5 separate regions of the Homo sapiens genome follow, and all the other regions are linked to region 1. The links come from fine-mapping of genetic effects on gene expression. A gene starts in region 1. Each other region holds a variant in brackets. All regions are shown on one strand. Distances are between the middles of the regions. Region 1 holds the start of NRDC (nardilysin convertase). Region 2 overlaps NRDC (nardilysin convertase). Region 3 overlaps NRDC (nardilysin convertase). Region 4 overlaps NRDC (nardilysin convertase). Region 5 overlaps NRDC (nardilysin convertase).

The links.
Region 2: its variant is fine-mapped to the expression of NRDC in whole blood (TOPMed, PIP above 0.99). The same link has a PIP of 0.9 or more in lung, tibial artery and tibial nerve.
Region 3: its variant is fine-mapped to the expression of NRDC in whole blood (INTERVAL, PIP above 0.99).
Region 4: its variant is fine-mapped to the expression of NRDC in T cells (TOPMed, PIP 0.98).
Region 5: its variant is fine-mapped to the expression of NRDC in whole blood (TOPMed, PIP above 0.99).

The regions. Positions count from the first base shown.
Region 1 is chr1:51,875,783-51,880,996 of GRCh38, forward strand. NRDC (nardilysin convertase) reads right to left here and starts at 2,945. Exons shown (of 31, transcript NM_001101662.2): 1 at 2,493-2,945. The coding sequence starts at 2,833. RefSeq lists enhancers at 735-1,266, 2,935-3,229, 3,113-3,292, 3,683-4,236 and silencers at 2,983-3,032, 4,990-5,187.
Region 2 is chr1:51,824,226-51,829,225 of GRCh38, forward strand. It overlaps NRDC (nardilysin convertase), which reads right to left. Exons shown (of 31, transcript NM_001101662.2): 5 at 3,571-3,644; 6 at 1,062-1,157. Among named protein-coding and RNA genes, the nearest start is that of MIR761, 9.7 kb to the right of the region's middle. The variant C/T (reference allele first, on the strand shown) is at 2,679.
Region 3 is chr1:51,841,107-51,846,106 of GRCh38, forward strand. All of the region lies in intron 1 of NRDC (nardilysin convertase), which reads right to left. Among named protein-coding and RNA genes, the nearest start is that of MIR761, 7.2 kb to the left of the region's middle. The variant CA/C (reference allele first, on the strand shown) is at 1,957.
Region 4 is chr1:51,851,181-51,856,180 of GRCh38, forward strand. The region is part of intron 1 of NRDC (nardilysin convertase); the gene reads right to left. Among named protein-coding and RNA genes, the nearest start is that of MIR761, 17 kb to the left of the region's middle. The variant T/A (reference allele first, on the strand shown) is at 2,046.
Region 5 is chr1:51,795,713-51,800,712 of GRCh38, forward strand. NRDC (nardilysin convertase) reads right to left here. Exons shown (of 31, transcript NM_001101662.2): 21 at 4,844-4,971; 22 at 2,537-2,699. Among named protein-coding and RNA genes, the nearest start is that of MIR761, 38 kb to the right of the region's middle. The variant A/G (reference allele first, on the strand shown) is at 2,680.

The DNA of each region.
Region 1 (5,214 bases):
CGCTCAAGTGATCCTCCCAACACGGCCCCCCAAGTGCTGGGATTACAGGCATGAGCCACCACAACAGTCTCTAATTTTTTTTTTTATGTGTCTGTGTCCCTCTCTACTATTGTAAGCTCCCTAAAGGCAGGTACTGGCTCAATCATTTTTGTATATTCACCCAGACTAACATGTTATTTATTACATTATATTTGACCAAGTTTCAGAAAATATTTAATCTAGCTTGGTGCCTAGCACACAGTAGGACTTAACAGGTATTTATCAAACAAATTTACCAAAAATGAGGTCAGTAAATGAAATAACACATCTAAAACAGTTACAACAGTAGCTGAAACACAGTGTAGATTCCATAAATATTAGTTATTATATAACTTTATATAGGCTGGAAAAAACCCTGAAACCATTATTGAACATTTGATCTGGAAGGCAAAAACTAAGCACCTTTTATCAAGTTTTCAACTTGCTCATTTATACATTGCCAATACAGGTTGAGTATCCTTTATCCGAAACACTCGGGACCAAAAGTATTTCAAATTTTGGATTTTTTTGGATTTTGGAATATTTGCGTATACGTAATGAGGTATCTTGGGGATGGGATGCAGTATAAATACAAAATTCATTTATGGTTCATATATACCTTATACACATAACCTGAAGATAATTTTATACAATATTTTTAATAATTTTGTGCATGAAACAAAGTTTGTGTACATGAACCAACCATCAAAAAGCAAAGGTGCCAAGTGTGGAATTTTTCACTTGTGGTGTCATGTTGGCGCTCATAAAGTTTTGGATTTCCGAGCATTCTGGATTTTTGGATTAGGGATACTCAACCTGTACAATCACATCTTTGATGAGAAAGAAAATTTAGCTCATTTATAAAGATCTCTTGACTCTGGCAGCCTGGAGAAAATATATCTAGACTTGAAGTGAAAGGAGAAATTAGGTTGGTCCTGAACTTGGAGCTAAGTGTCATCTGTCAAAGAGGTGTGGTGGGAAGTGGAAAAGATTATCTATAAGGTTGTTTCTTGCGCTAACGCTGTAGGGGCTTATAACAAATTTAGAACTAGAATCCTTCAGCTTTCAATTCACATAAGCAAGAAATTTGTAAAAAATCGGCAAACGGGCTGGGCGGGGTGGCTCACGCCTGTAACCCCAGCACTTTGGGAGAAGAGGCGGGCGGATCACAAGGTCAAGAGATCGAAACCATCCTGGCCAATATGGTGAAACCCCGTCTCCACTAAAAATACAAAAAATTAGCCGGGCGTGGTGGCGAGCACCTGTAGTCCCAGCTACTGGGGAGGCTGAGGCAGGAGAATCGCTTGAACCCGGGAGGCGGAGGTTGCAGTGAGCCAAGATCGCGCCACTGCACTCCAGCCTGGTGACACAGCAAGACTCCGTTTCAAAAAAAAAAAGGAAATCAGCAAATGATACACTGAATTTGGTGTCAGATAGTAGGGGTCATCATACCAGCTCTGTTATTATTTAGCTGTGTGATTCAGAGCAAGAAGCAAACTCTTTGGGTCTCAATTTCCTCAACCTGTTCAACGAAGTTATTGGACAATATGAACTCTATTTAAAATACATCAAAGTCCAGGCCTGGCACAGTGGCTCACGCCTGTAATCCCAGTACTTTGGGAGGCCAAGACAGGAGGATTCCCTAAGCCCAGGAGTTTGAAATTAGCCTGGGCAACATCGCAAGACCCAGACTCTTATTAAAACACACACGCACACACACACACGCAAGATACATCATAGTCATGATACTCCATGAAATAAGCTACCTCTGAAGGAAAATACTCAGGTGGGGACTGAATCACCAATTATTAGAAATGTTTAGAGAACTCCTGTACAAACCAAAAGTAGAGAATTTCAAGGTTAGAAGAAACCTTACAACTCACCCAACTGAGACCTAAGCCCTCTCTAATATATTCCTGGACGAGGTCGCCCAACCGTTTTGGTAATGGAGAACTACCCATGGAAACAAGTCACTTCAACTTAGGCCAAATATGATGCAAAGTTACTTTACTGAAGCCACACCATCCTCTGGTAACTTTCGTCCACTAGTTTCACCTATCACTTAAGTGTCCCTCAAATATTTTGGATAGTGATAATATGCCCCTTAAATATCCTGTCCTCCAAATTAAAGTATCCAACTCCGTCAACCTTTCCTGGTAACATAATACCAAGACTCCCTCACCATTCAGGCTGCGTTCCTCAAAGAAACCTTCATTCTTGCTTTAGCGACTGTATTCAAATGACTCGAAAAGCTTCTCCCATTCTGACGTCTTACAACCCAAGATCTCCCACTTGCCCAGCTGACACCACAGGGAAGCCTCTAATCACGCTTGCCACCTCCACCCAAGGAAGCATTTGGGGTGGAAAGTGTGCCCTGTTGCTCCATTGGGAGACATGGAGACAAGAAGTGACGGCGGCACCGACAGAGAAGCCGGCACACTGTTCGCCTCCCCATTGCAAGCCTCCTCCCTCACCGGTATTGCTTGGGGTCGCTGGGAGACTTGACGATCTCAGGGTCCCCAGCATTACTGAGAGACCCCCTCCGTCCCTCTTCCTCAGATTCATCCGCTCCTAGACGGGCAACCCGGCTGTTCTCGCCCAGATCCTGTCCATTGGGCTGCAGGTCAGGGCAGCTGCAGGTAGACTTCGCCTTGTTCCTTCCAGGCATGGCCAGAATAGGAAAGGGTCTGGCAGCAGCAGAGTCTTCGCACCGACCCCGCGTTTCGATTCCCCAGAGCGCCGCGAGCTCCCGCCCGGCCTCACACAACTTCCTCCGGGTGGCACAGACTGCAGCAACAGTGACTCTCCTCAGCATTCACCACCAAGCTGGAGCGATGGACATCCCGCTTCCCAGGACCCACCTCCTCCGCGTTCTAGAGGCGGTGGCGGCCGGCCCTGGTGCTGCCGCAGCCGCGGGGAACAGGCCTGAACCCCTCCCCCAACCCAGTCTCCCTCTCGCCGACTTCCCTCGTCCCTCCGCCCTCCCGGCCGCCGATGACGCTACTGATTTCAGCCAATCATGAGGCAAGAAAGTAGTCACGCTCACGTAAGCAACCAATCAGAACAGGAAAGGAGAGGCACCAACGTGACCCGGACTGATTCTCGGAACAGCCAGCGAACATTTCGAAACCCAAAGTGGGCGGGGCGAGGGAGAAGAAGCGGAGAGAGTGGCGCGGAGGACGACGGGAGAAGGGCCCCCGGCGCGTTTATGACGTACGAGTGTGTTTTGTGGAAACCACTGAGTAGTGCTCCGCGTGTCAAAGAAAAATATTCCCCTAATGAGAAAACTGAGAAACGAGTGCAGAGAATTAATTCCAAAGTTTTAAATTTTCCCATTCGTGTCATAGTTTGGGTACCCTACTCCTCAGACCCGGGGCGAGCCTTCGGCTGTGACTCAGCACATAAAAAACCAGAACGCCGGAAGTATTTTCCTACACCCGCCGGATGGACGCTGCTCCCGAGCGCCGCAAATACTAATTGGCTCTTCTCTACCCTACAGTCGGCCCGACAGTGGTGGGGTTTCATCCTCAAGCCCTAAGAAAGTGCTAAAAAGACCAGTCTGGATGTGCTAACTCTTCTGTGTGAAAACGTTTTTTAGCTCCTCCAGCCTCCTGTTAAATTCGGCCAATTTTTATCGAGCAGCTGCAGCGTCTGCTGCCTTCAAGTCTCCTTTCCCAGTTTTTCCCGCTAGCAGTGGTCTTTGGTTAGCAATGTAAAATGTGACGGAAATACAAACATAAATGAAAGCTAAAAAGCAGCTGAAATTAGTAAGATGCACTATACTGACACCATGGGGTAAGAGATCATAGCTCATACATACGAATGAGCGGGGAAAGACGTGAAGCAGGGAGATGTGTTGATAGTTACTGTATCTTCAAGGTTTTCGAGGCCTCTTCTGAGTTCCAAATGCAAGGAATACAACCATGAACAAAACAAAACTTGCCTTAGGCTGGGCGTGATAGTGATAGCTCACACCTATAATCCTAGTACTTTGGGAGGCCGAAGCGGGAGGATTGCTTTGAGCCTGGGAATTTGGTACCAGCCTGGACAACATGGTGAGACCCCCGTCTGTACAAAATTCTTTTTTAAAATTAGCCAGGCTTGGTGATGCGTGCATGTGGTCCCAGCTACTCAGGAGGCTGAGGCAGGAGGAACGCTTGAGTCCAGGAGGTCGAGGCTGCAGTGAGCCGTGATTGCAACACTGCACTCCAGCCTGGTTGACACAGTGAGACCCTGTCTAAACAACGACAACAAAAATTTAAAGCCTTGCCTTGGGGGAGCTTGCATCCTAATGGGAAGGAACTGTAAAATATGTAAACTAAAGTAAATCAGGCTTTTAAATAATTCAAGTTAGCTTTCTTCAGAAGTCTTATTGAGGACTGCCACCTGGGAGAGTCAGAGAGTTTTTTTTTTAGACTGCTCCAAAGCAGTGTTTCAGCCCGCAGCTTCTATACAGGTGGTGGCCGCTCTGCATGTGCTTGGAAGTTAAATCAAATGTGCTCAGAAAGGCTGGGCCTGTAATCCCAGTGATTAAGGAGGCTGAGGCAGAAGGATTGCTTGAGGCCAGGCATTTACAACCAGCCTGTGTAACATATCAAGACTCTGTCTCCACACACACATAAAAAAGCAAGGCGTGGTAGAACATCCCTGTAGTCCTAGCTACAGGAGAGGCAGAGTTAAAAGGATTGCTGGGACTCCTGAGTTTGAGGTTACAGTGAACTATGATTGTGCCTCTGCACTCTAGCCTGGTGACAGAGCAAGACCTTGTCTCTAATAAAAAAGAAAAAATGTACTCAGGAGTTACACTAGAGCAAAATCTCATGAAGGTTTAGGTGGAAGAGTACACATGTTTATAGATTATGGAGGCATAGTCATTAATCCTGTCAGAAATGTACAGGAAGAGGCAAGGTCGAGCATCATTGGATTTATCTTTTCTAAAAATGCAGTGATTCAGGCAAGAGACATGGGAACTTGTGCTCTATCCTGCATATTTTCAGGGTATTCTGGAGGGCTGTGCGCAGTCACTGAGGCTGTGAAATTCTGCTGGCAAGAGAGTTTGTGAAATTCTGCTGGTAAACAGAATGAGCAGACATGGCTTCTTATGTTTGCTACTTTGTCTCACATATACAAAAAACAATAAATGCAATGAAGACAAATTGTATAGGATAGGAAGATAAGGAGTTAGGGAGGAAGGGT
Region 2 (5,000 bases), 52 kb before region 1:
AGCGATTCTCCTGCCTCAGCATCCCAAGTAGCTGGGACTACAGGCATGAGCCACCACACCCAGCTAATTTTTGTATTTTCAGTAGAGACGGGGTTTCACCATCTTGGCCAGGCTGGTCTCAAACTCCTGACCTCATGATCCACCCGCCTCGGCCTCCCAAAGTGCTGGGATTACAGGCGTGAGCCACCGCGCCCGGCTATCTAATTCTTAAAAATAAAACACATGAAGCAAGAATGCCCTATAAAATGTATATAACTGTACAGAAATATACAGGGAAACAAAACACCCTTTAAAGAATAATTCAGATCATCTCATCCTAAATTTTACTCTATAGTCAACAGGATTAATATGAGGCTGTAACTAAATCCTCCCACTAAGAAAATGCCATTATGAAAAACAGACACCAGTTAAACAGTTTACTAGATGAACAAAATTAAGTCGCAGTTCAAAAACTCTTACAGAAACTATTGCTAACTCTGTTGACAAATGGAAATGTCAGGCTGAGGTAGAGCACAGACTTTATAATCAGATAAACAGATGTTCAAATCTCACATCCACCACTTACTATCTGTGTGATTTAAACAAATGAGATAACTTGACTGAAATTTAAAATAGAGATGGGGTCTCACTATGTTGCCAAGGCTGGTTTTGAACTGGTCTCAAGTGATTCTCCCACCTCAGCCTCCCAAAGCATTGGGATTACAGGTGTGAACCACCACGCCTGGCCTAAACCTGTTTATCTTTAAATGGAGATGATAATGGTACCTATCTCTGAACATTGTGATAATGATCAAATGAAATAATTCATGTAGTGTTAGCACAGTATCTGGCACTTAAAAAGCATTCACAAAATGTTAGGTGTTACTCTTGCTATATTCACTGTTAGAGAACCAAATAGAGGCATATTTAACAACTTCGCGTTTGAAAGGCTAACTAGCTATCCTAAAAGGTAAAAGGTACCTAGGGACTCTAGCTTTATAATTTTCAATTCTTTATCAACTTTTCTTATTCTAAATCTTAACTAGAAAATATGAAATAAGATGATGTATTTAGTATCTTACCCCAAAAAAATTTTCCCATAGGATGTCCAGGTCTAGCAAGGCTTCCAAACAACATTTCCTTTCTGTTTGCATCAGAAGGCCTTGCAAGTTGATATTCTGTCAATTTTAAATAAACACATAATAAAACAAAATTCAGTATCTCCTTTATTATATGGAAATTCAAACTTACAGAACAGAAAGCAAGGAATTAACAAAATTAACTTCATGAATCACGTGTTATAAGACTGAAGTGGGAAACTCAATGATCCAGGCCTGGCTCTATGACTTAATATGACCTGTAATTTTGGGTAAATCAATTCAGCTTACCAGAGTCTTACTCTTATTTTTCAAATGAAACACAAGGTAGTTAATAATCTGAAAGTTTCAGCTCTAGGATGCTATGTACAAGATTTTACTGATGAAAATGCTAATAAAATATTAATCCTTTTATCTGGGAATTTGGTCATATATATTGTTTAAATTTCTTCCAAAACCAACTATGTTGGTAATAAAGTATGATGGCTAAGAACAATCCACTTTGAAGTCAGAAATACCTTTAGCTACCGCTAAAGACTGAATGTTTGTGTCCCCCCACCCAAAATTTCTATGTTGAAACTTAATCCCCAATGTGATGGTATTTGGAGGTAGGGGCCAATGAGAAATGATTAGGTAATGAGGGCAGAGCCCTCATGAATGGATTAGTCCCTTGTAAAAGAGACCTCAGAGTGCTCCCTTGCCCCTTCTGCTGTATGAGGACAAAGAGTGAAGGCAGTTTTCTATGAACCAGAGAGCAGGCTGTCACCAGACACCAAATCTGCCAGTTCTTTGATCTTGGACTTCTCAGCCTCCAAAACTGTAAGAAACAATTCTGTGGTTTATAAGCCACCCGGTCTGTGGGATTCCATTATGGCAGCCCAAATGGACTAAAAACCGCTAGAACTGCAGTTCTGACACTAAGCTCAACAACCTTGAGGAAGTTATCTAACGTACCTGATTCCATTCCTCCAAAACTGTAAGAAAATAAATGTTTTATTTTAAGCCACCATGTTTCTGCAATAACAGGTAATATAGCAGACATGTAAACATATCTACGAAAAGTGATTTAAGACCCCTTGCAACTGATAAAAATAGAGTATAAATATCTGAACACTTAGAGACCATATTTGGAAAGGAAACAAACATTAAAAATGAAGAAGTAAGTAAATAAAAATAGAGACTGCACTTTGACACATAATTAAGATTTAAAAAGGCATTGGACATGCCTTTCATCTCAATCACTAAGACATACTATGCAGGCAATTATATATGTTTATGTGAGTATAAACCATCATTAAAATAAAAAGTCAATTATTAAAAATAATTTATCAGCCGGGCGCAGTGGCTCACACCTGTAATCCCAGCACTCTGGGAGGCCGAAGCAGGCAGATCATGAACAAAAGCACAACAGAATTTTTACTTTAGTTCAGCATAAACCAAAACTCCATACTGTGTGTGTATATACATATATATTTCTTTCAGCATAATTTTTCAAAGCATAATAAAATATATTCTGGCTTAAAATTGTAAAATCTAATTAAAGGTCTGCTTGTTTAAACACTGGTGTCAACCCACTCTAGAAACTGTATAAAGAAAAACATA[C/T]TAGAAAGCATTTAAGACACAGATAACAGTTCTTGAGTCTCAAAATATGAAAAGTGCTTTTAGTTATCCTTAGTTGTTTTGTTTTTTCATCCATTCAACAGGTATTTAACTGGGTTTAAGGTAAAACAGACACTGTGGTAGGCAAGTAAAAAAATAAAGAAAATAAATCCTTGATTTCCAAGGAGCTACTACAGCTAGGAGGAGCTTAACCATTCCATCCTTTTTTACAAATAAACTGAATGCCACAGCTAGACACTTCTGTAAGTTAAACAGGGGTCTGTTGACTTCCAGATAGATCACTCTAGCCATCTGTAGTTTACTCAGCCTAGTAAATGCTTTACATCATTATTAGAACTAGACACTGCATCAAACCAAGGAGGGAAATACTACAAAAAGTGGAACAAATACAGAGACTTGCAGTGGCTATAAGCCAAGCCTAACCTATATGAACTGGAAGTCCCCTCAAGTCTAGTATTAAATGCTTCTAATACTTAAATAAATCAAGCAGGGATAATATACAATGGTGATATTTATTGGTACTATGTAATTAAGGAATATTTATAGCACAGATCTATAATGAAGCCTCACCCTATATAAGCACATTCTTTTCCTTTATAGTCTTCAATCTTTGAATCTCAAAAGATTAGCCCCTATGGTAAAACCTTCGAAAAACAAAGGATGAAAAAACTAAAATCCACCATCCTTTTCATTTACTTCAAATCTACACTGAATTAGATGTTTAATGACTTCAGGAACAAACATAACACATATTTCAATTTAGTCCTTTAAAATATAAAGATAAAATGGTCTAGAGATAAAGAAGGATAAATGTAATAAGTAACTGGTTTCATGAAGGAAAAAACTGTAGTTACACATAAAGTACTCCTCTTACCACTATCAACAGCTTCAACTTCACGGTCAATTGCATCTCTGATCATTAGTGGGTGGATGAAGAACTGCGCCCATCTGAACAAAAAACAAAACTGGCATTTCCGTTTTTGTTCACTTTCATCAATCAACATCTATTATTTTAATTAAGAAACTTACTAAGTTGGAGATTTAATTCACAATCCTAAGTATATAAAATCTAAATAATCTGCATTTCTATATTTTAAACTAATATCTACATGTTACTTTAACTTTTTCATTGTGAAATATATTTAATAACAATCATACAGAAAAGTTAACAAAACATGAACATATAAACTACACCTGAGTGGCCCACCCAGGTGAAGAAACAGACCATAGTCAACACTCTAGAAGCACCCAGCTCCTACCCTTACCTCAAGAAATATCCTGAATGTATAGCAGTAATTTCTCTCCTTTTCTTTATAGTTTTATTACCTATATACCTATTTCTAACCCAATGTTTATCAACCCTTTTTATTTCCATTTTCAACCCTTAGGAGCCTTTTCGGAAATGTTCTCCTATTCATTCCTTTGTAAAATTGTAATATCACAGATAGTCTATTTATGTAATGTTATGTATATCCATGTTTTTATAGAGTATATAAAGCTTACTTTTTTAGTTCAATGCAAGTTTACAGATGACTAAAAACGTTTCAGTTAAAAGTTAAATTAGAATTTTAAAGACTTGGTATTTAAGTTAATCTTATAATTTCATCTGCTTTTTAAATTAATTTTTAATTATATAAACTGTGATGTATCAAATTACATATACAAATTACCACTTATATAAATACATAATAGCAATGCAATTAAATTGTTAAAAATTATTCAAAGATTGGTGTATTGGTGTTTTTCCAGCAAAATAGAATGATTTAAAAAATTAATTTCCTAAAATGTTTAGTAAACTTTTTTTTTTTTTTTTTGGATATAGTGTCTCACTCTATCACTCAGGCTAGAATGCAGTGGCACAATCACTGCTCACTGCGGCCTCAAACTGCCGGGTTCAAGCAATCCTCCTGCCTCAACCTCCGAAGTAGCTGAGACTAGAGGTGTGCACTACCATTTTTTTTTAAATCTTTAAATTTTTTATAGAGACAGGGTCTCCCTATATTGCTCAGGCTTCTTTAAAAAACTTTTAACTTTTGCTTGCAATAAGGTAACTTTTAACTTAACTACCTGCTAGATATATTGGGGCATTTTTTTTCTTTTCAGTACTTGGTATGATTAATGATGGGTTGGATAATTTCTGTTGACTTAAATAATGAAACTAATTTTATTTAATTCTGTCACCCAGACTGGAGTGTGTAGTGGCACATCACGGCTCACTGGAGCCTTGAACTCCCCAGGCTCAGGTGATCCTCCCACCTCAGCATCCCAAGTAGCTGAGGCTACAGGCATGTACCATCATGCCCT
Region 3 (5,000 bases), 35 kb before region 1:
TGCTTTTTTTGAGACAGAGTTTGCTTTACTGCCCAGGCTGATTTTAAACTCTTGGGCTCAAGCAGCTCACCTCAGCCTCCTGAGTGGCTGGGATTACAGGCATGTGCCACCATCTCAAGCTCCTGATTCTTATCTGCAAAACTACTGTGCCAGTTTGATGACTAGGTATCTATTACAGACCACTCCCATTTACACTAATTTTTTTTTTCCTTTTTCTTTGAGACAAGGTCTCACTCTGTTGTGTAGGCTAGAGTGCAGTGGCACGATCTCAGCTCACTGCAGCCTCGACCACCTGGGCTCAGGCAATCCTCCCACCTCAGTCTCCAGAGTAGCTGGGATCACAGGCACAGGCCACCATACCTGGCTAATTTTTGTATTTTTTTAGAGACAGGGTTTTGCCATGTTACCCAAGCTGGTCTTGAACTCCTGGGCTCAAGCAATCCACCCATCTTGGCCCCACAAAGTGCTGGGACTACAGGCATAAGCCATCGCATTCAGCCCCATTTATACTAATTTTTTCATGTATTTATTCAATAAACATTTATTTAGCACCCTTTACATATCAGATATCATGCTGCATTAAGGATAAAAAGGATAAAACAAAATTCCTCATCATCAGGCATTCACTGTCTAATAATGAGATGAGCCAGTATAATACAGAATGACAGAGATAAATACAGAATGTAAGAAACAAGCAGTCAGGGAAGGCGTCTAAGACAAGGTACACTTAAAAAGTCAAGCAAAAACTAAGAATAACATGCAAAGAAAGACAAGGAAGAGAACCTTTGGCCTAAGATGGAAGACTGAACACTGGGATTTATCTACTTTCCATATAAAATAATCACATTTGGAGCTCAGGAGTTCAAGACCAGCAGGCAACGTAGCGAAACCTCATTTCTACAAAAAATACAAAAAATTAGCCTGGCATGGTGGCATGCGCCTGTAGTCCCATCTACTTAGGAGGCTGAGGTTGGGAGGATGATTTGAGCCCAGGAGGTCCAGGCTGCAGCGAGCCCAGATCGGGCCACTTTACTCCAGTCTGGGTGAAAAATGAGACCCTGTCCCAAAAATTAATAAATAAATAATAAAAAATAATCACATTTAAGTGATAGAAAAAATGTTTGGTTTTTTTTTTTTTGGTTTTTGAAAATAAAATCATGACAGACAGAAAACAGGAAAGGACACTGTTAGCAGATTACAAATTTTTAGAAATCATTAGAAGACATGCAAATTTGATCAGATTAATGGAGAAAACCACAGACCTATAAACATGTAGTAAGATATTGGTTCTTCCCAGGAAACCCTAGAAAAAGTCTAAGCTTCAGATCAATAAATAAGAGCAAAGAGAGCCTCAGGGCAATAAGCTCAATTATGTAAACTGGAAGCAATCCAAGTCTACTGACAGCAGAATAAAAAAACTGTGGTATATTCATATAATGAAAATTTTCTTCACAGTGGAATATTGTAACACAGGGAAATACAGAATTCAGCAACAAACTACGACAGTGGTTAATCTTAAAAACATGAGTGAAAAAAGCAAATCACAAAAAAATACTATATGAGTACCATTCACATAATGCCAAAAAACAAGCAAAAGTAAACAGTATATTATTTAGGTATACATATATATCCAACTTTTTTTAAGCAAAAGAATGATAAACACAAAATGCAAAACAGGGCAGGGCACAGTGGCTTGCGCCTATAATCCCCGCACTTTGGGAAGCCGAGGCAGGTAGATTGCTGGAGTCCAGGAGTTCAAGATCAGCCTGGGTAACATGGCAAAACCCCATCTCTACAAAAAAAAATACAAAAATTAGCTAGGCATGGTGTATCTATGGTCCCAGCTACTCCAGAGGCTGAGGTGGGAGGATGGCTTAAGCCCGGGACATGGAAGTTGCCGTGAGCCACGTTCATGCCACTGCACTCCAGCCTGGGCAACAGAGCAAAAACCTGTCT[CA/C]AAAAAAAAAAAAAAAAAAAAAGCTAACTACTTGTTGGGGTGGGAGGGCAGGGCAACATGTAAGGATACAGAGGGATTAAAATGTTCAAGACCACCAGAAGTAGACAGCAATATGCCACCTCTAAATATGCCTCCTTGGCATAAGGATTGTTGAACTGAAGGCAATTAAAAAGCAGATGCAGGAAAGCTCTCTGCTATCCACTTGCCTAAAAGCAAGACATAAATTTACTCCAAAGACAAAAAAGGTTAAAAAAAAAAAAAAAAAACCCAACCCCTGTTTACCGTGGAAGAACACAAGTTAACCACCAAATACAACTTTACACCTGTATTGGTCTGGATACGACACCAAAGGAATCCACATTAACAAGTTTACTAATTATGCTTTGCCTGCCATTATTTGCCTTTCTACAAGTTGCTGCCCCTACAGACTCAAAGTCCTTTTTCTTTGTCTTGACACTTTGCTAAACATTTGTTGAAGATACTATATAAGCAGGAATTAAAAGCCAACTCATTCTGAGTATCTCCCATGTATTTATGAATTATACATGTTAACAAACTTATATTTGTTTTTCTTTTGTTACAGGGGACCATTCCAAATAATAACTTATGAGGGTTGAAAAAAATTATTTTCCTCCCTTACACAACCCAACAGCAGGACAAGTTAAAATCCAAGAGCTATTTTCCAAGAATATGAACAATCTGTCCAGAAATAAATTCTAAGATGAATCTCAGAGATGCAGAATCATAGAGAAGCAGTTTGAGGTAGTCCCAATATCTGTATCAGATACCAACTCAGGTTGGGGGAAAAAAAAAAAAAGCCAGGGAAGGGGAACTTTACTTGGTCTTTGTAAGGTGCATTTTTTTTCCAGCTTAAATTTTTCATAAACAGAACAGAAAAAATCTAAAAATCTACTATCAAAATAATCCTATGCATTCTACTTTCAAAATAAATCACAATTCTGATAACTTCTCATCAACTCTACAGCTATTTCCTTAGAGCATGTTGTCATCGTGTCTAATCTCCTCCTAACTCTCTGTTTCCATTCTAACCTCAATACCCTGGCTATACTCGCCTCCACCACCACCATCCCCCGACGCCCCAACACACCTCAAGTCAATTCTCAGCAGGCTAAGTAAAGCAAATGAGCCCTGCTATGGGCTGAAATGTGTTCCCCCCAAAATCCTATGTTGAATCCTTAAACCCTACTACCTCAGGATGTGATTGTATTTAGAGACAGGGCCTTTAAAGAGGTAATTAAGCTAAACATCAGGCCTCTAAAGTAGGTCTGAATCCAATCTGAATGGTATCCTTATAAAATGAAGAAATTTGGAAACACGATGGTACACCAGATATGTGTGCACACAGAGAAAAGACCATGTGAGGAGATACCAAGGAGAAGGCCAACCGCAAGCCAGAAAGGCCTCAGAAGAAACCGAATAGGGCCGAAGAGGACGGATCATGAGGTCAGGATATCAAGACCATCCTGGCCAACATGGTGAAACCCCGTCTCTACTAAAAATACAAAAAAATTAGCCAGGCATGGCGGCGCGTGCCTGTAGTCTGTCTCAGCTACTCGGGAGGCTGAGGCAGAATTGCTTGAACCCGGGAGGCGAAGGCTGCAGTGAGCCGAGATGGCGCCACTGCACTCCAGCCTGGGCGACAGAGCAAGACTCAGGAAGAAAGGAATTCCGGAAGGGAGGGACGGAGGGAGGGGGGAGGGGGGAAGGGGAGGAGGGGGGAGGGAGGGAGGAAAGAAGGAAGGAAGGAAGGAAGGAAGGAAGGAAGGAAGGAAGGAAGGAAGGAAGGAAGGAAGGAAGGAAGGAAACCAAATAGGCTGACAGCTTGATCTTGAACTTCTAGACCCCAGAGCTGTTATTTAAGCTACTCTGTCTTTGATATTTTGTTATGGCAGCCTTAGCAAATTAATACAAGGCCATTTCCCTTTTCAAAATTCATCATTGGCTTCCCATCATACTTAAAATCCAAAATCCTTACCATGGCCTATACAATGCTCAACATAATCTCGTTCTCATTTACCTCTCCAACCTTCTTTCCCACTACTCTTCCTTCATTCTGTTTGCTCTAAACAAATGACTTTATTGTTGTTTCCTAAACACTGCCAACAGACTCTCAGTCCAGGGCCTTCGTGCTTGCTGTTCTGTTGGCCTTAGGGGCCCTTGACCCAGATAAAGTATGTGCCCGACTGCTCTACCTCTTTCAAGTCTTTCATGAAATGTCTCCTTTTGGCCCGGCCGCAGTGGCTCACACCCGTAATCCCAGCACTTCGGAAGGCCAAGGCGGGCAGATCACTTGAGGTCGGGAGTTAAAGACCAGCCTGGCCAACAATGGCGAAAACCCGACTCTATTAAGAATACAAATATTAGCTTGTGTGGTGGCATACGCCTGTAGTCCCAGCTACTCAGGAAGCTGAAGCAGGAGAATCACTCGAACCCGGGAGGCGGAGGTTGCAGTGAGCCAGGATTGCACCACAGCACTCCAGCCTGGGCGACAGAGCGAGACTCCGTCACAAAAAAAAGAAAAGAAAAGAAAAGAAATGTCCCGTTTTCAGAAATGCCTTCTCTGACCACACTACCTAAAATAGCTCTTTCGCCCATTTCTATTCTCTTTTATCCTACTTTAACCTTCTTCGCACCATTTATCATTACTTGATTTTATTTTCTGCCTGCACCATTAGAATGTTATCTCTGAGGACAGAGCTTTTCTTTCCTTCACAGCTATATCCTGGGACAACACCAGGCATATATATACCAAACATTTAATAAACAGATATTGAATAAACAAAAGAATGTTAACGCCTGGAGGGGACCTGATACATAGTAGGTACTTAATATCTACTTAATGAAACAAAATGAGACAAAATCTAACACCTAATTTAAAAAAAAAAGAAAGCTATGTGTACAACATGTATCCATTAAATGCATATAAAGTTACAACAACAGAACTAAAAGTACACAAATCAAATGGAATGGTAATGTATATATCTGGGGAAAGGAGAAAAACTAGAGATACAAAGATATTTTA
Region 4 (5,000 bases), 25 kb before region 1:
TTTTGGTAAGTGGGGGGTTGATGTGTGATAGCCCCATAGTATTTTTCCTTTCAGCAGGAAATCCAGCCTTGCTTCAGCAAGGTATTGGGCTCTACTTCATCAGAATGCACTTGGTGGGAGATATCCCAGAGCTGAAGACTGAAACCTTGAAAAATCACAATTTGATTGTGATTTACTTGCTTGAAAATCTATTTAATACTTAACACCTGGCCAAGGCATTAAAGGTTTGTCACCTAGGTTTTGCGACAAACCTTTAATGCCTTGTCCAGGGTTTTGTTTCATTTGAGAAACACAAGTTCTATTTCCTTTGTAGCCCATTAGGGTGTATTCTGCAGAATTGGGCCATTTTTAGATTTGGGCCCAAGGAAAAAAAAAAAATGATTTTTTTTTAATTGCAGTAGTGCTTGGCCACAGTATTTTTTAAGACTCCAGAAAAAAGCCTGAAAAGGGGAACCTTTAAACTGGACCCCTAAATTTTAAAATAATCTCAGGCATCTCTCTAAACAATTGCTTTTACAAAAAAAAGTTATTTTCTAAACAAATTTTACAAAGGACACTTAATAGTGTCATGACTAGCCTTGAGAATTCACTTGACTAAATTAAAGAACAAATATCTCACCTAAAACAAGGTTAAAATCCTTTGCAAGCTCAAAACTGCCTGCTTTAGATCCCCTCCAGGAACAGCAGTGGTAAAGCACTGAGGCTGCCTGGGTTGAATTCCCAGCCAAGGAACACATCATTTTTTGGTTTAATATTTGTGTGACTTTTGCCATTTATCGTTCCTTTTTCCTTCTATGGGCAGCTTTTGATTTCCTGTCCTCCATCTGTGAGGGGGGCAGCCTACAGGTTTTTTGGTATGCTTTTTGGTACACGTTGTGTGTGTGAATGGTCAGCTGAGAAACTGAGGCTCTAGAGAATATGGCCAAACAGAAATGTGGTCTGTACTCCATTTATGGCTGACGAAATTTTCCTCTCTTTAAGCTGTCTTTGGGGCAGCTCTGAATCTTGTGAAAACTGCTTTCCACCTCTTTCGAGACCTCATGTGTCCTTGTTGAAGTCATAACCCTGGCTAACGCTTCTTAGTTTCATGGGGGAGAATATCTTTGGGGTGAAAAGAGTTCAAAAGCCAGAAATATCAACTGTTTGTCCCAGCTAAAAATCTGATAGTAAGAGATTTGAAAGGATATTTTTTTAAGAACTCTATACTCAAAAGTCTAATTAAAACTAATATTTAGGCCATATTTGTGTATGTATATATAACTATATATATAAAATTATATAACTATAACTATATATACATTATATATAACATGTATATGAGGCCTTAAAACTATATTTATATAGTTTTAAACTATAGTTTATATATATAGTTTTAATAGTTTTATATATTTATAGTTTTTTTAATAGTTTTATATATAGTTTTTTATAGTTTTTTATGTGAGCCTCCATGCCCGGCCACTTTTCTTATTTTCTCTGTCTACTACTGGCTTAGCAAATTCTGTGTGCTGCCCTGGAGTCTTAATTACTTCAGGTGATCACACTGAACTATAAATATAATTGCCTTTTTGTTATGCTTCCTTGTGGACTTTCATCCTCCCAAATTAAAAGGGCAATTTTATAATTAGAATTTCTGAGACGTTGACAAAGACAGGTAACCTATAGATATATCATCTGACCCAGCTAATAGAACAATGATACTCAAGTTCCTTCAATCATCATAATCTGAGGGCCCCTTTCAGAATATTACATAAAAGAATTCCTGGCCAGGCACGGTGGCTCATGCCTATAATCCCAGCACTTTGGGAGGCCGAGGCGGGTAGATCATGGTGTCAGGAGTTCGAGACCAGCCTGACCAACATGGTGAAACCCTGTCTCTACTAAAAATACAAAAAAATTAGCCAGATGTGGTGGCGTGTGCCTGTAATCTCAGCTACTCGGAAGGCTGAGGCAGGAGAATCGCTTGAACCTGGGAGGCGGAGGTTGCAGTGAGCCAAGACATGGCACTCCAGCCTGGGTGACAGAGGGAGACTGTCTCCAAAAAAAAA[T/A]ATATATATATATATTATATAAAAGAATTCCTTTATTTTGGAAGTCCCTTCACTTGAAGCTTCAAACAAATTTGCCAGAAATAATGAGACTCTGCCTCTATATAAAAGGCTTACTTGATTTTGCCTCTTGAGAGGAGCAAGAGCCCTGCTCCCTCCTTAGAAGTCTGCTCTCTAAACATGTCAGAAATCCCGTATCTTAGCTGCAAGTAAATTAACTCATTAAAAGTAAACAAGTCCACATACTCACTTTGGGATCCACAAATCTATTCTTGCCCAGGTACTAAAAAGATGGATGCGGGTTATTTCTTTGGATGGACTTTGTTACCTTGGTGGGGAGTGGCATCCTATGAGCACATGATTAGAAATCTCTCTCTTTAGGAATTCTTGCTAAGGAAACTTCAGCAGCAATAGCTGTCTAGCAGAAAAGAATTAATTCATTGGCTCAGGTGTCTTAGATAATAGGATAGCCTTAGATTACATCTTAGCCAAGCAGGGAGGAGTGTGTATGGTTGCAAATCCCACATGCAATACTTATATAAATGAATCTGCTGAGGTAGAAACTCATCTAAAATAAATTAGAGAACAAGTCACTTGGTTACAACAGATCTCCCTGACTGTCCCTAAGGACTGGTTTTCTTCTTTCTTTTCTTGGATTCCTCATGGAATAAAATCCATGTTTTCTGGATTGCTAAAGTTATGCATATCAATCTTGCTAATTTTTCTTGTGCTTTATATCATAACCAAATGTGTGTTAAAATGTAATAAAGCAGTGACTAATACAAATAATGACAGTTCAGCACCATGGTGCCATGCCTGGGACTCATGGATACCTTGAATTCCGTGCTAGGAACTTACTATCCTCAGCCAGGGGCGGTGGCTCACACCTGTAATCCCAGCACTTTGGGAGGCCGAGGCGGGTGGATCACGAGGTCAGGAGTTTGAGACCAGCCTGGCTAATATGAGGAAACTCTGTCTCTACTAAAAATACAAAAAATAGCCAGGCGTAGAGGTGCACACCTGTAGTCCCAGCTACTCAGGAGGCTGAGGCAGAAGAATCGCTTGAACCCAGGAGGCAGAGGTTACAGTGAGCCGAGATCATGCCACTGCACTCCAGCCTGGGCGACAGAGCAAGATGCCATCTCAAAAAAATAAAGAAAAGAAACTTAATATCCTCATATCCTAGTCCTCAATCTTTGCCCCAATTCAACAGGAAGTAGGCAGAGCAGTCTGCACCCCAGTACCCCACAAGATTGATGGGTGACAAAAGATGGGGAATTGAGATGACGCAGGGACCCCAAGCATAGAAAAAAGGAAAATCTTCAGTTATTTCAAAGGAAACTTCAGGCACCTAGCTAGCCCTGAAAAATAAATGTGCAACTTGATAAACAAGCAGGTAACAGTAACAACAGCCAAGCTGGCCCAGCATGGTGGCTGACACCTGTAATCCCAACTCTTTGGGAGGCCAAGGTGGGAGGATCACTTGAGGCCAGGAGTTCAAGACCAGTCTGGGCAACATAGCGAGACCCCATCTCTAACAACAACAAAAATAGCCAAGGAAGTTAAGAGTCACAAGAATGTTTGCTTCCCTATAAAAACTAAAGATAATACCTTAACATGTCTCCAGTTGTTTTTCAGAAACCTGTGCCCACACCAAAAGGATCTGCCAGCACAGCAACCTCATATAGAGAGGAACTGGGGACTGAACTCTGACTCCCCTTCTTTGTTCTAAATTTCTTTCTGAGGGGCCTGGAGAAGGTTATACCCATGAGCCAGTGCTAACATTCTTTTCTGCTGATCTCAAATTTTTAGAAAAAGCTTTGCCTCCTTAACCAACTGCAAATCAGAAAATCTTCTACTGTACCTATGACCTATACACCACTGCTTCAAGATATCCCAACCTTTTAGGCCAAAATCAGTGTGTAACCCTCCATGTATGGTTTATGATTTTGTCTGTAACTTCTGCTATCCAGAAATTTACCACTGCCTTTAAAAACCCTTACCTGCAAATCATCGGGGAGGTCAGGATTTAAGCATTAGCTACCTGGTCCTCTTTGCGTAGCATCCTGAAAATAAATGCCTTCCTTTCTACTGCTGCAAAACCTCAGTGTGGTTATGTCCTTATTGTGCCAGGCGAGCAGACCCAAGTTCAGTTCTATAACAGAGCTAAAAGGAAAGAATGTTTTTATTTAAGAAAAAAAAATTGGTATAATATTTGGGTGAAGAAAATTTGTACCAAACAAGATAAAAAATCCAAGCCCTTATAAAGAAAAAAAAAATGAAAAGAGTTCACTGTATACTAATTTTAAGTTTTTATAAAACAATATCATAAACAAAATCAAACAGCAAATTGCATACTGGGAGGAAAAACTAACAACATGTAAGAGTTCCTTCAAATCATTAAGAGAAAAAAACCCTATTAAAAAATAAGCTTAAAAATATGTGCTATACAGCCTGGCCAACATGGCAAAACCCTGTCTCTACAAAAAATACAAAAAAAAGTAGCTAGGTATGGTGACGCACCCCTGTAATCCCAGCTACTCAGGTGTCTGAGGCTGGAGGATCACTTGAGCCAGGGAGGAAGAGGTTGCAGTGAGCCAAGATTGCGCCATGGCACTCCAGCATGGGTGACAGATGGAGACTCTGTGTCAAAAAAAAATAATAATGATAATAATAATATATACTACACACATTACAAGAACACAAGATGTCAAATAAAATGATGCGCAATCTCACTAGAAATAAAAGACAATCAACTTAATGAAATATTTTTCATCCAACAAATTAACTAAACAAAAAATAAAAACAATTGCTATCCAGTGCTGATAAGTGGACAGATTATTCTCACACATTTCTGATGAATCTCAAATGGTATCACATTCTTGTAGGGAAATACAGCCATTTTTATTTTTAATGGAAACTCTGAATACTTTTCATTCAGTAATTTCATTTCTAGGT
Region 5 (5,000 bases), 80 kb before region 1:
AACTAAATACGTATCAGAACAAACTCCTCATATGCTCCCACTCTTACTACTGTTCCTGTTCCACCAACCCACTGCTTCAAGAAAGAAATCTGGGCATCATTCTAGACTGCCTTCTCTCTCACTCCCACTGAGTGAATTTCCATCATCTTCTATTTCTTAAGCACTTCTTTAAACAAACAAAAAAAAACACCAGGGTCTTGCTTTATTGCCCAGGCTGGAGGGCAGTGGCATGACCTCAGCTCACTGCAGCCTCCACTTCCTGGGCTCAAGCAATCCTCCCACCTCAGCCCCCAAGTAGCTGAGATTACAGGTGTGCATTGCTACACCCAGCTAATTTTTTTTAATTTTTTTGGAAGTGGTGTCTCACTATGTTGCCCAGGCTGGTCTCAAACTACTGAGCTCAAGCGATTCTGCCACCTTAGCCTCCCAAAGTACTGGGATGACAGGCATAAGCCACCATGTCCAGCCTTAAGCAATTATTTTTCATTTATTTGGCCTAACATCAGGCTTCAATATTTTTCACTCCCAACTCTTTTTTTTTTTTGAGACAGACTCTCACTCTGTCACCCAGGCTGGAGTGCAGTGGCGTGATCTCGGCTCACTGCAACCTCTGCCTCCCAGGCTCAAGTGATTCTTCTGCCTCAGCCTCCCAAGAAGCTGGGATTACAAGATGCCCACCACCACACCTGGCTAAGTTTTGCATTTTTAATAGAGACAGGTTTTCACCATGTTGGCCAGGCTGGTCTTGAATCCCTGGCCTCAAGCAATCTGCCTGCCTCAGCCTCCCAAAGTGCTGGGATTACAGGCGTGGGCCGCCTTGCACAGCCTTCACTCCAGCTTTTTATTTTGATAAAATAATATAAAGTTTATAATCTCAACTTTTTTTTTTTTTAGACGAGGAGTCTCACTCTGTCGCCCAGGCTGGAGTGCAGTGGCACAGTCTCAGTTTAGTGCAACCTCCGCCTCCCGGATTCAAGCAATTCTCCTGCCTCAGCCTCCCGAGTAGCTGGAACTACAGGCATGTGCCACCAAGCCCGGCTAATTTTTGTATTTTTAGCAGAGACGGGGTTTCACCATGTTGGCCAGGTTGGTCTCGATCTCTTGACCTTGTGATCCGCCCACCTCGGCCTCCCAAAGTGCTGGGATTACAGGCGTGAGCCACCGCGCCTGGCCAATCTCAACCATTTTTAAAAGTGTGCAGTTCAGGGCCAGGCACGGTGGCTCACACCTGTAATCCCAGCACTTTGGGAGGCCGAGGTGGGCAGATCACGAGGTCAGGAGATCGAGACCATCCTGGCCAACACGGTGAAATCCCATCTCTGCTAAAAATACAAAAAATTAGCTGGGTGAGGTGGCAGGTGCCTGTAGTCCCAGCTACTTGGGAGGCTGAGGCAGGAGAATGGCGTGAACCGAAGAGGTGGAGGTTGCAGTTGGGCCAAGATCACGCCACTGGACTCCAGCCTGGGTGACAGAGCGAGACTCTGTCTCAGAAAAAAAAGGGGTACAGTTCAATAATGTTAACTATATTCACACTGTTGTGCAGTAGATTAGATTTTCAGAACTTTTTCATCTTGCAAAACCAAAATTCTGTACCCATAAAATAACTTGTCTCTTCCCTCTTCTCCCCAACTACTGGAAACCACCATTATATTTTCTGCTTCTATGAATTTGACTACTTTAGATAACTCCTATGAGTGGAATCATATCTGTACTTTAAAACAGCTTCATAACTTGTCTCTCTGGATATTTCTTAACCACAAATCTTCTTAAATCCTTTAATGGTTCTCCATTTCTACAGGATAAAGCCCAGCACCTTAGCTTCACAAACAGGCTTGACATACTAGTTCTGGCTATGTATGTATGTATCTATGTATGTATCCGTATGTATGCACACACATCCCTCACCATTTCCTTCCTCCCATTTTAGCCTCTATACTAAACTGTTCATGGTTTCCACATACAATCTTCAACAAAGGTAACAAACAGTATAGATACGCCAAACCCATTTCACTCAAAATCCTAGTCTATTACCAGCAATCTATTTTTCTCTCTCTCTTTCTTTATTTCTTTTCTTTTGAGACAGGGTCTTACTCTGTTGCCCAGGCTGGAATACTGTGGTGCAATCATAGCATGCTGTAGCCCCAAACTCCTGGGCTCAAATGATCCTTCCACCTCAGCCTCCCAAGTAGCGGAGACTATAGGCATGTGCCACCATGCCTGGCTAATTTTTTATTTTTTGTAGGGATGAGTTCTCACTGTGTTGCCTGGACTGGTCTCGAAATCCTGACCTTAAGTAATGCTTCTGCCTTGGCCTCCCAAAATGCTGAAATTACAGGCGTGAGCCATCATTCCCAGCCCAGCAGTCTTCATCTTAAGAAGAAAGCTGCCCAGCATCAGAGGGGTCAGGTTCCCTTCTAAACAGAATATGATAATGCTGGCCTGCCAAAACTACAGCTTCCCCTTTAGGAAAGAACTATGGCAATTCCAGAGTTCACAACTGCATTCAGACCTGGCCTACAGAGCATCTCACACTCACTGTGCTTGTGACATTCCCTTGTACCAGGCCCTCCACAAAGAGCTGGGATTTGAATTCTTTGACGAAGCTCAGCAGAGACTCAAGGGAAAGGCCGTCCATCAAAGCCTGGTACTTGTCAATCATAGACCAACGGGCATATTCCA[A/G]GATTAAAAGCCGTACATCTCTGTACAGAGGGCAGAAAAAAAACACTCAAAGTTTTGTTATTAGAAATGAATCTTCAGAATAAAGAAATGTTTGGTCAAAGTTCTATAAAGGATGTGTTTCTAAAGAGAGACCATTTTTATCACAATGTAAGATGGGAAAACAGTATCAGATTAACCAAAAAAGTACTGAAAACCACATACACAAACTTTAAACAAATTTACTTAGCAGTACAAAAATGCACTTACCTGTCTCAGTTGCAGGGTAAAATATTTCACATAAAAGTAAAGCTGCCAGATGAGTCAAGTTTACTTAGTTGTACACTGATTTAAAATTATTACTATTTTGGTTTGAAATCTCACTAATATTTCATTAATTACTAGAAGCCATCATTTGGGATATCTATTACTGCAGTGACAATATAATACAGGTAACGGCTCTGGTCCAGAATCAGATTAACTTCATCCCCCATTTCCACAACCCCACCCCAAATAAGCTGTTTGAATTTGACAAATCTACTAACATCTATGATTCAATTTCTTCATTTGTAAAACAGGGGAAGTATTCGTGAGAGGTAACCGTTTTGGATAGAATTGAATTAATGAATTTATATAACAGTTCTTAGATCTAGCACAAAAATCTTCAACAAACAGGTTTATTATTATTCTTTTATAAAGTAAATTTCAGGAGTTGAATTTTAATAAAATAGAAGGTTGTGTTTAATAATGTATTTTTATAAATAAATAAAGTAGTATTCATGAGTTATTGGCAGGGCTATTCACCGTATCAATGGTTGCAGATAACTCTCCTTTTTTTATTATTATACTTTAAATTCTAGGGTACATGTGCACAATGTGCAGGTTTGTTACATAGGTATACATGTACCATGTTAGTTTTGCTGCACCCATCAATTCGTCATTTACATTAGGTATTTCTCCTAACACTATCCCTCCCCCAGCACCCCCACCCCCCAACAGGCCCTGGTGTGTGATGTTCCCTCCCTGTGTCCATGTCCTTTCTAACATATATCTAGTTATTAGTTTTTGTAACTTTCTGTGATCAGAATATCAGTTATTACATGACTGATTCCTAACCCCTTCTTTCTAATTCTGGAAACTGATGGGTTCATTACAGCTGTGTCAAAAGCAGAACCTTTACGCTGTTCACTATTTATAGATGCCCAGGGCAAAACTGTCAAGTAGGGGCTAGCCAGTCATGTGCACAAAGGGGTAGGTCTGTTCAGAGGACTTTTCTCTCCCTCCCACAAAGGCTCTACCTGCTAATAGAGGGTACCTCAGAAGGATACTTTTTTCTGATTCACGCAAAAGTATCCTACAGGCTACAATTAGCCCTGGACTAAAGTAGTAAGAACAGGCTCTGAATGAAGGCCCAAGGGGGTTGCCTGTGAGCAGAGGGTTTAAGTATTAGCATACAGACTGTGTAGCTGCCTTTCTGCTCTCTTCTGGAAGCTTGGCTGAATTCTGGATAGTTAAGATTGCTAGATAAGTGACATGTTTAGCAATTTAACTCAGCTACTAATCACCAACATACTAAAATCACCAGTAAATACTTCTTCTGGTTTGTTTTTTGTTTGTTTTTCTATGAGACAGGGTCTATCTCTGTCATGCAGGTTGGTGTGCGGTGGCATGATCATGGTTCACTGCAGCCTCAACCTCCTGGGCTCAAGCAATCCTCCCACCTCAGTCTGCCAAGTAGCTGGGACTACAGGCATGTGCCACCACACCCAGCTAATTTTTTAATTTTTTGTAGAGATGAAGTCTTGCTATATTGCCCAGGCTAGTCTTGAACTTCTAGGCTTGTGATCCTCCCACCTCAGCTTCTCAAAGTGCTGGGATTACAGATATAAGCTACCATGCCCGGCCTAAAACTAGCACTTCTTTAACATTCAGGTATAATGATTGGTGAAAACACCCTTCCTTACTTTTAGTCTCTACAGTAAGCTGCTTTCAGTCCCATTCACAGCTAGCTACATAAGCTGGGTTTAGAAATACCGTAACGCTATGCACGGGTCTCCTAAACTAGAGCACGATTCAAACACGGATGAAAATTAGCACTGCAACTATAGCCTTAACCCCCACACCCACCCACTAGGGAGAGTAATACTTTCAGGTCCTCAAAATATAAGCTCATCTCATTTATACCCACTTGGCCAAAGTCTCGGGCTTGATGAGGATGTTAAAGTAGGTCTTCTTCAACTGCTCAGTTATCATTGTAAAGACAGCTGGTGTGGAATTGAACTCAGCTAAGTAGTCAATAATGAGCTGAAACAGTAGCTAAAAGAAAAAGAAGGAAGCATTTTAAG